Regions from separate parts of the Homo sapiens genome. Here regions 2 and 3 are each linked to region 1. The links come from fine-mapping of genetic effects on gene expression. A gene starts in region 1. Each other region holds a variant in brackets. All regions are shown on one strand. Distances are from middle to middle. Region 1 holds the start of ZNF200 (zinc finger protein 200). Region 2 has its middle 18 kb from the start of ZNF75A. Region 3 holds the start of LINC00921 (long intergenic non-protein coding RNA 921).

What was found. PIP is the estimated chance that this variant, and not a neighbour inherited with it, causes the effect.
Region 2: its variant is fine-mapped to the expression of ZNF200 in breast (GTEx, PIP 0.95).
Region 3: its variant is fine-mapped to the expression of ZNF200 in whole blood (TOPMed, PIP above 0.99).

The regions. Positions count from the first base shown.
Region 1 is chr16:3,234,115-3,236,872 of GRCh38, forward strand. It overlaps ZNF200 (zinc finger protein 200), which reads right to left and starts at 1,044. Exons shown (of 5, transcript NM_198088.3): 1 at 873-1,044. RefSeq lists enhancers at 1,083-1,142, 1,153-1,362.
Region 2 is chr16:3,322,094-3,324,851 of GRCh38, forward strand. It overlaps a transcript of ZNF75A not described here, a transcript of OR2C1 not described here and the pseudogene RPL7L1P19. Among named protein-coding and RNA genes, the nearest start is that of ZNF75A, 18 kb to the left of the region's middle. The variant A/G (reference allele first, on the strand shown) is at 1,258.
Region 3 is chr16:3,262,295-3,265,052 of GRCh38, forward strand. It overlaps LINC00921 (long intergenic non-protein coding RNA 921), which reads left to right and starts at 1,474. Exons shown (of 2, transcript NR_033904.1): 1 at 1,474-2,758. RefSeq lists enhancers at 1,535-1,694, 2,135-2,234, 2,385-2,454 and a silencer at 1,715-1,894. The variant G/C (reference allele first, on the strand shown) is at 1,432.

The DNA.
Region 1 (2,758 bases):
CAAAGTGTGGCCAGGTACCGGTGGCTCACACCTGTAATCCCAGCACTTTGGAAGGCCCTGGCGGGTGGATCGCTTGAGTCCAGGAGTTCAAGACCAGCCTGGGCAACACAGCAAGACACCGACTCCATAAAAAAAAAAAAAATTAGCTGGGCGTGGCGACACAAGCCTGTGGTCCCAGCTACTGGGGAGCTGGGAGGATTGCTTGTGCCCAGGAGGTCGAGGCTGCAGTGAACTGTGATCGCGCCACTGCACTGCAGTCTGAGCGACAAAGCAAGACCCTGACTCTAAAAAAAGAAAGGAAAAGAGAAAGGAAAGAAGGAGGAAGGGAATCAGGGAAGAGAAAGAAAATAAAAGGAAAAAGAAAGAAAAGACAGAAAGAAAGACGGTGTGTAAAACCCACCAGGAATAGGTTAAATCAGGCTTGGAGAAAGAGCAATGGGCTAGAAGACAGGAAATCTGGGGTCAATACCGAGGACATCTGCCTAAAAGCAGGTTGGTCACTGAATCTGGCCATACTGTACCCCTCGAACCGAAGCTCCCTCCGGTGCCCTTTGGGCGGGGAGGCGGTTGGTGACTCTCCCGGGGAGCAGATGCAAGGCCGAGGAGGTGTCCACACACCGCCTGCCGACTCCTCTCCGCCGTCAAAGCTCTGCTGAGAGCGGCAGGCGACATCCCACTAAGGACCGCCGGGCCAGGCTCACTCTGGGGCCTCTTCCGCTGGTCAAGGAACACCTTTACCGTAAAGCTCAGCGTGCGCCCCTGCCTGAGGCGCTCACCAGGCTCCCTACCCGGCCTTGCTCCCTCAGCAACGGACACGCTCCGCTCCCCAGAGGCGGCCTCAGCCTGGTTCCCGCCCTCACGGAGCCCCTCACCTCTCGGGGCCTCTGCAGCCCCTGAGCGTTTGCTGGGGACGGCTCAGAGACTCAGGCTCCGGGAGAGATAGAAAAACTAGGCGCGAGCGGTCGAGCCCTCCCCTCGCCCTTCCGAGTGCCCTCACAGGTCGCCGGCGACTATTCGTTCGCGCCGCCGCCAGTTGAGGAGAACGGCAGGGACTCGGTGCCTTCTGGGAAGTCGGGCGCTCTGCGGCTGTGACGTCACAACCGGTGCCTTGTTTCCGGTGCAGAAGCCTGGTCTCCCCGTTCGGAGCCGGCAGTCTGCGCTTGAGACGTTAAGACTTGAGACAGGCCAGAGGAGCTCTCAGGGCCGGAGGGAGGCCAGGACGGCTGTAGCCTCTCTGTGGTTCTGCCTGGAAGACGGAAGGCAGGTGGTTGGCTCTAGTCATCCACGACGGGCTGGCACCTCTCCAGCTGCGGCCAGTCTAACCCCAGGGCCTGCTGGGAAATGTAGTTCGAATGCAAACAACCAATGGACGACCGTCAGGCGCGGCGGTTGGGGCGGGGCAGGCCCCCCCACCGCCCCACCCCCCGCCCACCCAGCGCCCGCGCTCCCCCCACCCCCCACCCCGCCACCCCCCTACCCCGCCACTCCCCCACCGCCCTACTCTCCCCACCCCCCACCCCCCTACTCTCCCCACCCCCCACCCCCCACCCCGCCACCCCCCACGGCGCCACCCCCCAACCCCCACCCCCCTACTCTCCCCACCCCCCTACTCTCCCCACCCCCCTACTCTCCCCACCCCCTACTCTCCCCACCCCCCTACTCTCCCCACCCCCCCACCCCCTACTCTCCCCACCCCCCTACTCTCCCCACCCCCCTACTCTCCCCACCCCCCCACCCCCTACCCTCCCCACCCCCCCACCCCCCTACCCTCCCCACCCCCCTACCCTCCCCACCCCCCTACCCTCCCCACCCCCCTACCCCGAGGCTTAAAGGAAGCAAGCTATCTCTCCGACCGGAAAATCAAGACGCCTCCGCGGTTTCCGCCTTTTACTGCGGTTCTCCAGTAAAAAGACTGCGGAGGCGGACAGGGTGTGGCCGCCATGGGACTCCGCCCCCGCTCTGGTGACTCCCATAGGTTAGAGATGGGGCACCGACATTGCCCACTCCAGCTTGCTAACTTCTACACTGCTGTCCGCACCGGCCGTCTTGTTTTTAAAGACATCTTAATTGCCCTTCTCCTACTGTCTCGGTTTCCTTTCTCAATTTCAGCTTCCTACGGAGGCCGAACAGAGTTTTGTGTTTGTGCGTTGTATCCACACTCGGTTCGTTCCCCAGTGACGCACTGATCAGGGTTCGGACAACTTGTGGGCAGGGATGGCCTTATTTCTCGATGTAATACCAGCCTCCAGAAAGTTGACAAAAGTAAAAATATAAATGAATGCCTCTTCTTAAAGTTAATTATACCTGACTAATGGCTGACGATGGCTTAAAATATGTTACAAAGAAACGAGTATGAAAACTGTGTGGCACCAAGACATTCTAGAAAAATAAGGAATATCTGCCTTTTCAGATCAAAATTTACTAAAAAGCCTCCGTTAATCAAAGCATTATGGTTTGAATTATGAGGCAAAACAGATAACTGAGATGTCTTGAAGTAAAATATAAACCTGTGTGATTGTATTTTTTAAGAACTTTTTCTTGACTCTGTTAACAAACAAGAAATAGACTGGAAGATAATTGTAAAGATTAGCTACACAAAAGATTATACATTCCTAAGACAAAATGAACCCCTGCCAACTGACAAAAAGCAAAGGCAATGAGGAGCTCTTCCCGAGAGGAGGAAAACTAATTGGTCATTAACATTTAAAAAGATGCTTAACCACACTACTAGTCAAGATTATCACTTTTAAAGGGAACC
Region 2 (2,758 bases), 88 kb after region 1:
GCATAAATACTTGCTGAAGCTCTCCCCACATTCTCTGTGGACTGAATTCTCTCCTATGTAGACTCTCTGAAGTCCCCTCAAGTGGGAAACAAAGTTTTGCCCATACTTCACGTTTCTACTGTTTGTCCCAGTAGAAATCCACCCAAACAAAAAGCATACTTTTGTTTCTGAATCTTTTCTACACCTGTCACTTTTTCTTGTGTGGGTTCACTGGGGACCGAGATGAGGGCACTGTTTGAAACATCAACCAAATTTGCTACATGCCTAGGTTTCCTTCATGTATTAATCCTCCACTGGGCAATGGTAGTTGGGCTGTACTGAAATGCCTTCTTCAGTCGAGCGTCTGTAAGGCTTTTCTCCTGTACGATTCACCCAAATCTGATAATGCGTGTACTTTGCCTAAAGCAGTTCGCCTAGTCTGAATCCCTCCTGTGAAAGGAATTAAGCAAGCTACCTTTTGCATTGCATTTCAGATTTAAGAAAACTATCTGAATCACTTTTCATTTCTGCCACAGTTCAGATAATGAATCTTGAGTTGCACCAATCTTAGCGCTGACATTAAAAATCAAGCTTTACAGTGTTTGGATATGATGCACCTTTTAGGAGAAACTAAGAAAGCTTACTGTTGAAATTTTTTTTTTTGACAAGTTAACATTTATTTTTGGGCCTTTCTTCCTATGTGTATTTCAAGTCTTTTTCAAAACAAGGACCCAGGAATCTCCAGATTCAATTATGTCCCTGGGCTTGGTCGACTGCTCCCGGAGTCTTAGGAAGCCTTGTACAAATGCTAGAGTTACTCATTCACCAACATTAAACCCTAGGATAGAAGATTCAACAAAGCAGGACTACTTCCGCCGACAAGGAGGCAGCCAATGTAGAAAATGCTGGAATTTTTCCTTGGAACTGGACTGTGATGAGAGGTACTTGCCATGAACCTAAGCTACTGTCTTTTTTTTTAACCCTTCCTTTCCAGTTTTTGAAGATAAAGCAGGAAATAGTCTTTGAAGATACTTGATAAAAAAAATCTCAAAAAAACAAAAACACATGCTTCCACTTCATTGATAAAAATTTACTGCAGTTTGGCACCTGGGTCTAGTTCAGCTGGCAGATGAGCTGATTGATGCATTCACCCCAATAGCCAGATGTGCCCATCTCCTTGAGGAAGCCCACTGTATTTTTGGTAGCATGATGGACCACTGAGAGGTGGAAAGGGCAAAAGAACCATGAGATCTCCTGGAAATGCTTCACTGGGAGGCA[A/G]TTTCATGAATGAGGTCTTCCAAGCAAATGACACCAAACTTCCCCAGGTGCTCCTCAATCACTGTGTTGTCTGTCAGAGGGATGGTGTTCTTATTGACCTTGGCTTGTCCATGTTTCAGAATGAATTCCCGGACAGACTTCAGATTTGGAAATCCCCAGATCACATAAGGTTCCACTATACGCAGCATTTTTAGGTTCTGGGGGGTGACTTTTACAAAGACACCACTAAAAATTTTCTTAAGATGAAGTCTTGCAATGGCTGTCTGCACCAGTAGACTCACGCCAACAATCCTTTTGCTGCATACAACAAAGGCCAAGGAATGTTTATCTGGCAATTCCAAGGCACGAGGTTTCATTTCTAGTCATCTGAGACACACCTTGTCACATTTCTGCCACCAGGAATTATGTAGGAATGATTCCAGTCCCTTAAACCTGAGCCCTTTTCCTTTCCGCTGCTCCTTCTTTGCCAAAAGTGCCTGCTTTGTCTGAGTGGCTTTGAGGACTTGATAAGCCTTCCTCTTTTTCAGGAGATTTTCTGGAACCAAAGGGATTTTTCTTTGCTTTTGCTCTGCCATCTTTCTAGTGTTGTAGCTGCTGATCCTTACTGTTGAATTTTTAAAACCAATAGGTATACTTCCAACATAATTTTCACACTAAGCATTTGCCCATGATTTGTACAATCAACTGAATGATTTCAAAGCATTTGAAACAATCAAAAAGTAAAAGATCTTTACTGTTCACAAAGACAAAATTAAATATTTGTAGCATTAGAAAAATTCCTAAAATATTTAGTAGCATAGGGAACAACAGCTTGTTACACAGAAGAGTTAGGAAAAAAAATTTTTTATTTTATTTTTTGGAGACAGAGCCTCACTCTATCCCCCAGGCTGGAGTGCAGTTGCCCGGTCTCGGCTCACTGCAACCTCCTCCCCAGTTCAAGCAATTCTCGGGCCTCATGCTTCCCAAGTAGCTGGCACCACAGGTGTGCACCACCACACCTGGCTAATTTTTTGTGTTTTAATAGAGATAGGGTTTCAACGTGTTTCCCAGGCTGGTCTCGAACTCCTGAGCTCAGGCAATTCACCTGCATAGCAGAGTTAATAGATGGGCAAAGGCCATTGAGTTGAAGAAAGCACATTATGATGCATCAGCCTCATGTTCTGGGACCAAATCAAAGTACTCACTCTACTGAATTGACCAAGCAACCATGAGAAAAATATCTAACTAAACTGCTCAGTGTTGTAATGGATTTCTCTCTACGTATGTTTGTTTTATAAATATGTTAGAGATGGGAGTCTTGATATGTTGCCCAGGCTGGCCTCGAACTCCTGGACTCAAGTGATCCTCCTGCCTAAACCTCCCCAAATCTGGGACTGCAGGTGCATGCCATCACACCTAGCTCCTACACACACACACACGTATATATATGTACATACATACATATACATACTTACATATACATATATATGCTTACCTCAAATATATTGCAGGTTTGGTTCCA
Region 3 (2,758 bases), 28 kb after region 1:
GAGATAAGCCTGGCCAACATGGTGAAAGCCCGTCTCTACTGAAAATACAAAAATTTGCTGAGTGTGGTGGTGATGTGCGCGTAGTCCCAGCTACTCTGGAGGCTGAGGTGAATCACCTGAACCTGGGAGGCGGAGGTTGCAGTGACCTGTGATCGCACCACTGTACTCTGGCCTGGGTGAAAGAGTGAGACTGTTTCAAAAAAAGAAAGAAAAGAAAAGAGAACACTCTGGCTTCCATAAGAGACAAGAGATGAGAAAGGTGGAAACAGAGAGGAGAAAGCAATCTATTGTCACAATGCAGGAAAGCGACTGCAGGGCCCTGAACCACTGTGGAGGCAGAAGGGTCAGATTCTGGGTGATTCTGAAAGCAGGGCTGACATGATAAGGGTAGACTGGATACTGGCGGGTGTGAAGATGCATCTAAGATACCTGTTTCTGGCCAGATTTTACAAAGGGCCCTTGTTGCTACCTTAAGGAGTTAGTGTTGAATCCTGCAGCAGCTAAGAGCTTCTGCAGGATCTCCCTCTCAACTTGGACCAACCCACCTGCCGATCCCAGCCCAGATCAATGAGATCTGCTGCCCAGTCCCCTACGCAGATAACACTAATTGTAACTGATCTTTCTGAGGGCACCTCCTGAGCAGCTTGGAAACGGAGGGAGAGGAGAGGAAGCCAGCTTCCCAAAGTGGGGTGTGGCAGGTGGCCTTAACCCTGCTGAAGGGCTGCAGTCATGGGGCTCTGAATAGATCCCCACACCACTCACCAATGAGCTTCATTTGGAAGGCGGTAACGTTAAACAAGAGGGTTTGTAAAAAATAAAGGCCTACACACATAATTTTTTCTGATTATTAAATCTAGGTGGAGAGTACGTGAGTATTCATGTTACTCTCTCAACTTTCTTGTGCTTAAAAATCTTAAAATAAAAACTTTAATACGCTCTGTCCTACCAATATTTATAGGAACCTGACTAGCAGCCAGGCTTTGGACACGCAATCCCCGGCCACCAAAGGGCTGACAGGCTAGTGAAAGGGGCAGAAAAATAACAAAACTGTGTCTGGAAGGCAGCTACTCCCTTTTTTTGTTTGTTTGTTTTTTGAGACGCAGTCTCACTCTGTCGCCCATGCTGGAGTGCAGTGGCGCGATCTTAGCTCACTACATGTGCCTCCGGGGTTCAAGCGATTCTCCTGCCTCAGCCTCCTGAGTAGCTGGGACTACAGGCGCGCGCCACCACGCCCGGCTAATTTTTGTATTTTTTAGTAGAGACAGGGTTTCACCATATTGGTCAGGCTGGTCTCGAACTCCTGACCTCGCGATCCGACCGCCTCGGCCTCCCAAAGTGGTGGGATTACAGGCGTGAGCCACCGCGCCCGGCCCTTTGTTTTCTTACCAACTAAGCAGCAGCACTGACACTGTTTCCTTTGAGGTTCCGTTT[G/C]CTGAATCCTGCCCTCTAAGGTGCTCCGCCCTTCCACTCCCCGCCCCGTGCTGCTGTCATTCCCACGCCTCACCCTGTTTTGCAACTTCTTGTTTATGAGCCTGGAAGCCACGAAGTGGTGGGAAATACGAGATTCAAATATCTGGTGGCCGTGTGACGTGAGTAAATTACTCGATTTTTCTCAGTTTCCATTTCCTATCAAATGGGTTGTTCTGGGAATTCGGGGAAGTAACAGTGCCGGGAACCGCGGGAGGAACCGCCAGCTGCGTCCTCGGACGTCCCCAAAGCCCAGGGCGGCGACTGGCACGACTGTCAGGGGCGCGTCTGTTAAGAGGACAGGGGGTCCCGCCCCGGCACAGCCGTCTCCTCCAGGACCCCTCCCGCCGACGCCCCACGGACCCCACGCCCGAGCGGAGACCGGCGCGAGTCCGGGGTCTCCGGTCCGGCAGCCCCTCCCTGGCCCGGCGCCCCAAAGGGAAGCGGCCTGGGGGAGGAGACGTGTGGAAAGAGCGGCAGAAGATAAAGAGGAAGTAGCGGTAGAGAATAAAAAGGAACTGTCCGCAGTGTGCCCGGACGCGGGGAGGCGCTGGGGTCAAGCGAGACCCGACCTGCACGCAATTCCCGCCGGGGTCCCGGCCTGCCTGCGGGAGGGAAAGGACCCAGGGCGGCTTCTGCCAAAAGTGCGGCTTCTGCCGAAAGTGCGTCTTCTGCCGAGGGGCCCACATAAGGCGCGACAGACACTCCAGCCCGACCCCGACGCCCCGCCCTCACGCATGCACATGCGCGGAACACTCCCAGAAACACATCTCCCAGAGCGCCCCGGGAGCACGCGAGCCAATTGGAGGGCGGATTAGCGGGGGCCCACGTCTCCCAGAGGTCTCCGAGTCGCGGCTCTGTTGGTCTGATTGGCAGCCGCAACAGCCTATAGCTGCTTTTCGCCGGAGGGGCCACGCGCCGTTTGCCGGGACTGAGCCGCTGTTGTCGCTGGTATCCCGGGAGCAGCGCCGGCAAGTGGAGTCGTCGTATTCCGGGCGGCCCGCGGCCCACGGGGATGGGACGTCCCGGGGCTGTGCTGACCCCAAAACCCTTCCACACTTTATTAGCCTGTCGCCCTTCTTTCATGTTTACAGCAAATATTTTCCGAGTGCCTAATGTGTCCCACTTACTGTGCCACGTGCGAGGGTGCACGTGTCAGGCAAGATCGCTGTTCCAAGGAGGCTGAGAACAAGTAAATGGTAATTACCAGTTATGACCAAAGCTGTGAAAGGAACAGATACATCAGCCTAACAGCAGCACTGCCGTTTTCTCCCTTATAATCAGCAGAGGC